Regions from separate parts of the Homo sapiens genome. Here region 1 is linked to region 2. A link means that fine-mapping ties the variant in region 2 to the expression of a gene that starts in the linked region. Tissue or cell type: sun-exposed skin. Region 2 holds a variant in brackets; the other region holds the start of a gene. All regions are shown on one strand. Distances are from middle to middle.

Region 1 (2,500 bases), 330 kb before region 2:
CTAAGACCCCAGTGACACCACCTGCCATGACTCAGCCCCTGCCCCCAGTCCCACCACCCCAATACTCACCAGGCTGCCCCAACCACAGACAGGGAGATAGCTAGGCCAATGCCCAGGTTGGACCACATGAAGGGCGAAGTCTCCGTCAGGAACCTGTTGTGGAAGCAGAGAAGAAAGCAGTTCAGCTCTAGCAGGGAAGCGGAGCACAAAATCTTAACCCCTCAAACCCCCTTCAACCCCACCACCAGTTCTACAGGCAACAACTGACCGCGTATTTCCCAAAGGTCCATGTCCCAGGCAGGCAGTGGTGTGGGGGAGGGACTCAGACCAGAGAAAAGAAGAGAGGCTGCAGGGAAGAAGCTTCAAGGGGAATCCTCCCCCTGCCCTCCCTTACCATGCCACATCAAAGCGGAAGCCCAAATCAAAAATGGTGTAGCAGACTCCTGCAGCAGTGAGGGAGAAAAAGGGGGTTACGGGCTGCTCGGTAGAGAGAAGTTCTTCAACCTAAAGTAGCTGCCGAGCTGAAGGGCCACCTCCCTGAAGGGGCGTCCTCAGGCTGCCCCCAGGTGACAGTACAGCTGTGTAGACAGATTCCTCTGCTTAGGCCTCCATTTTCTGCCATTCCCTCGCTAAAACCACCTCCCAGACCAAGCACCTGCGCAGGCAGGGTCGCCACCCGCAAGCCCGAATCCGAGGCGGGACCGAGGGAGCAAGCGCTCCAGCCAGATCCCGCCGGCCCAGTCCGTTCCGCTGTTTACCCAACAAGCTGTGGGTGGGGGAGGGCAAAGCGACTGGGAAAAGAGGAACCGGAGCAGCCGGCTTGTGACCGAGCGGGCCGGTCAGGAGCAAGAAAGGGGGGACAGCAGTGAGACGTGGGAGCGAGGGGAGACAGCGATAGTGGCAGGACGGGGGAGTGCTGCCCTCGCGGCCCCTACCCGCCCGCACCCCTCCTCAAGCAGCTGGAAATCCGGGTCTCCTTTGTCGGAGTCAGAGGCCCTCGCAGGCGCAAGTCCCCAGAGCCTCGGGTGCAGAGCGCGCGGGGGGCCAGTATTCCCCGCAGGCCACTTCCCCGCCGAGTTCCGACCCGGCCAGCTCGGCCGCGATGCTGCTCCCGCCCGCCAGGACCCGGCCTCACCCACGGCCAGCGCGCAGGCCCAGAAGGCCACGAAGACCCCGGAGTAGAGCAGTGCTAGCCCCGTCATGGCGGCGACGGCGGCGGGGGTCGGAACGGCGGGGCCGGAGCTACAAACGCGTCCCAGCGTCCACCGTCCGTCCCGCAGTCTGTCCGCCCGCCCCGCAGCGTCACCTAACTCGCCCACGTGATGCGCCGGTACCACGTGACCCCACGCCGGTTCCCCGCGCAGCGCCGCCGCCCGTCTAGAGCAAGGCGACGCTGGAACCGCAGGCGCTGGGGATTGTGGTAGTTGTAGTCACGCGTCTCGGCGGAGGCTTGGGCGCCCTCCTCTCTAGGAACTTCGACATCTGGCCGGTCCTTCTCGAGTCTCTCCACCTCGCCCTGCCAGCCCTGTTTTATTCCCGAGCCTGCTCGCGGGCCCCTAAGGCGTCCTCTCTGGCAGCCGTGCGTCCTAGCCTGTGGCGGGTGGCGCCGCGCGTGCCCTCTGCCTCACCTTGCTCACGGCGTCTCTCCGCCCCAGTGCGCCTGTTGGCGCTCGCTCCGCTGCCTGGCTAACACCTGCTGTCCTCCGAAATCGTCCTTCCGGCAAGCCTTCCCTAACCCAGTGGCAGGGAAGCGCGTTTGCTGGGCTCCCGCGATGTCCTGGTGATGCTTATTAAGCTTCAGTAAGATGTCACTACCCTGTCGAAATGCCCTGATGGCTCCCATTTCATTCAGGAGAAAAGCCAAAGTTCTCACAATAGCCTGCTAGGCTCCCCACGCCCCTCAGCTGACTTCACCTTCTAATATTCCCCCACTAACTCCCTCCTCTGGCTGCACTGCCCTCCTTGCTATTTCTTTGAACGTGCCAACCATACCGCGACCTCACTGCCCTTGCACTTGCTCTCTCTGCTTCTCCTAACTATACATGCGGCTCATCCTGTAACTTCCTTTCAGTTTTTGCTCACCTTCTTGAAAAGGCCTTCTCTGACCATTCTGTTTAATATTCCACCCCACTTAAACGCTCCTCTGCTTCCCAGCTTTACATTTCTCACGGTACTTACTGATCACCATTTGGCATACTAAGTATTTTATTTGTCCAACTCCCCTGGAAGAGTGGAAGCACCATGGCTTTTGTGTCGCTCACTGCTGTATTTCCAGTACCTGGCACAGAGTGTGTCCTCAGTACATATTTGTAGAACACATGACTGATGCCCACTTTGTCTGGGTTACCTTGTTAGCTTACAGCTCTGCCTCCACCATTAGACTAGGCATTCCCTGAGGGCAGGGACCACATCTCCTTTGTTCACCTTCAATACCCTCGACAATGCCACTGTGACCAGATTCTCAACAAATGTGGGGAAGAAGAGGCGAGTCTTTTCATTT
Region 2 (2,757 bases):
ATGCCGAGCACATGGCAGGCATGACATAAGTAATCATAATGGCAATATTATTCGCTTAAAAAGTTAACTACACCTAGGCCAGGTGACGTGGCTCACGCCTGTAATCCCAGCACTTTGGGAGGCCGAGGTGGGTGGATCACGAGGTCAGGAGATCGAGACCATCCTGGCTAACACAGTGAAACCCCGTCTCTACTAAAAATACAAAAAATTAGCCGGGCGTGGTGGTGGGCGCCTGTAGTCCCAGCGACTCAGGTGGCTGATGCAGGAGAATGGCATGAACCTGGGAGGTGGAGCTTGCAGTGAGCTGAGATTGCGCTACTGCATTCCAGCCTGGGTGACGAAGCGAGACTCCGTCCCCCCAAAAAAAAAAGTTAACTACAGCTGGGTGCAGTGGCTCACTGCTGTAATCTCAGCACTTTGGGAGGCTGAGGCCAGTGGATCACCTGAGGTCAGGAGTTAGAGACCAGCATGGCCAACATGGTGAAACCCTGCCTCTACTAAAAATGCAATAATTAGCTGGGCATGGTGGCAGGCGCCTGTAATCCCAGCTACTCGGGAGGCTGAGGCAGGAGAATTGCTTGAACCCAGGAAGTGGAGGTTGCAGTGAGCCGAGATCGTGCCGTTGCACTCCATCCTGGGTGACGAGCAAAATTCAGTCTCAAAAAAAAAAACAAAAAACAAAAAACAAACAAACAAAACAAAGTTAACTACATTTATTGAGCTGTTATATTTCAAACACTGTGCTAAATGCTTTATATGCACAAAAATTGTTTACATTTAGATATATGCTATCATTAACAATGTTCTTTTTAATAATATAATTTAATGATTTTTAAATAAATTTACAAACGCATGCAACTATCACCCAATCCAGTTTTGGAACATTTCCATCACCTCAATAAAATCTACCACCTCAAAAAGATTACCCGTGCCCAGTTATAATCAGTCTCCATTCCCACCCCCAGCCCCAGGCAATTATTAATCTATTTTCTGTCTATATAGATTTGCCTTTTCTGGACATTTCATATAAATAGAACCATAGACTATGTGGTCTTTTGTGTCTGGCTTCTTTCACTGAGCATAATTTTTTTGAGAGTCACCCATGTTGTAGCATGCATCAGTATTTCCCTCCTTTCTATTATTGAATAGTATTCCACTGTAGTGTTGATTGATGTTTGGGTTGCTTCCACTTTTTGGCTATTAGGAATAGTGCTGCTATGAACATTTACATGCTAGCCTTTGTGTAAATGTCTGTTTACATTTCTCTT[G/A]GGTAGATAACAAGGAGTGGAATAATTGCTAGGTTGTATAGTAAATTTGTGTTTATCTTTTTAAGAAACTGCCAAACTATTTTCTAAAGTAGCTGTACCATTTTACATTCCCATCAACAATACATGAGGAGTCCCATTTCTCCATATTCTTGCCAGCATTTGGTACTGTCTATCTTTCTGATTATAACCATTCTAGTGGGTGCCAAGTAGTATTTCACTGTGGTTTTAATTAGCATTTCCCTAATGACTAATGATGTTGGGCATCTTTTTATGTGCTTATTAACCATTCATATATCCTCTTTGGTGAAATGTCTATTCAAACCTTTTGTCAATGTATTAATTGGGTTGTTTGTCTTCTTATTATTGAGTTGTAAAAGTTATTTATGTATTTGGATACAGATCCTTTATCAGATGTAGGCTTTAAAAATATTTTCTCTCCTTCTGTGGCTTGCCTTTTCATTTTCTTTAGTGTCTTTTGAAGCACAAGAGTTTTCGTTTTGATGAAGTTCAATTTATCAGTTTATTGTATGAATTGTGGTTTTGGTGCATTGACATTAACATTTACATAGTTCTGCTCTGCCCCTAAAATATGTCCAGAATTCAACACTTCCCTTCACCTCCACTCCATCACCCTGCTCCAAGCCATCCTTAGCCTGAATAGGATAATTGCCACAGCCTGCTAATGTCTCTGTATCTCTGCCCTTGCCCCCTGCAGTCTCCTCAACACAGCAGACTGATTCTTTTTAATTTTTTAAAAAATTATTTTCTACGCTGGGCATGGTGGCTCGAGCCTGTAATCCTAGCACTTTGGGAGGCCGAGGCAGGTGGATTGCTTGAGGTCAGGATTTCAAGACCAGCCTGGCCAACATCTACTAGAAATACAAAAATTAGCCAGGTGTGGTGGCATGGGCCTGTAATCCCAGCTACTCAGGAGGCTGAGGCAGGAGAATCGCTTGAGCCTGGGAGGTGGAGGTTGCAGTGAGCTGAGATCTCGCCACTGCATTCCAGCCTGGGGAATGGAGTGACACTCCATCTCAAAAAACAAAAACAAACACAAAAACAAACAACAAAAAACGGGTTTTCTAATTTTTTTTTCAAGTGATTCTCCTGCCTCAGCCTCCCGAGTAGCTAGGATTACAGGCGCCCACCACCACACCCGGCTAATTTTTTGTATTTTTAGCAGAGACGGAGTTTCATCATGTTGGCCAGGCTGGTAGTGAACTCCTGACCTCAGGTGATTCACCCGCCTCGGCCTCCCAAAGTGCTGGGATTACAGACATGAGCCACTCCGCTCAGCCTAGAGTGATTCTTTTTTTTTTTTTTTTTAAGACGGAGTCTCACTCTGTCGCCAGGCTGGAGTGCAGTGGTGTGGTCTTGGCTCAATGCAACCTCTGCCTCCTGGGTTCAAATGATTCTCTTGCCTCAGCCTCCCGAGTAGCTGGGACTACAGGCGCGTGCCACCATGCCCAGCTAATTTTTGCATTTTTAG

What was found. PIP is the estimated chance that this variant, and not a neighbour inherited with it, causes the effect.
Region 1: it holds the start of ATP6V0B, and the variant in region 2 is fine-mapped to the expression of ATP6V0B in sun-exposed skin (GTEx, PIP above 0.99).

The regions. Positions count from the first base shown.
Region 1 is chr1:43,973,743-43,976,242 of GRCh38, reverse strand. It overlaps ATP6V0B (ATPase H+ transporting V0 subunit b), which reads right to left and starts at 1,283. Exons shown (of 8, transcript NM_004047.5): 1 at 1,136-1,283; 2 at 395-443; 3 at 70-153. The coding sequence starts at 1,202. LOC124904167 (a long non-coding RNA gene) reads left to right here and starts at 1,378. Exons shown (of 2, transcript XR_007066053.1): 1 at 1,378-1,800; 2 at 2,356-2,500. RefSeq lists silencers at 745-794, 1,195-1,244 and enhancers at 464-1,296, 1,495-1,544, 1,595-1,714, 1,297-2,130.
Region 2 is chr1:43,641,748-43,644,504 of GRCh38, reverse strand. No RefSeq gene overlaps it. Among named protein-coding and RNA genes, the nearest start is that of KDM4A, 7.0 kb to the left of the region's middle. The variant G/A (reference allele first, on the strand shown) is at 1,269.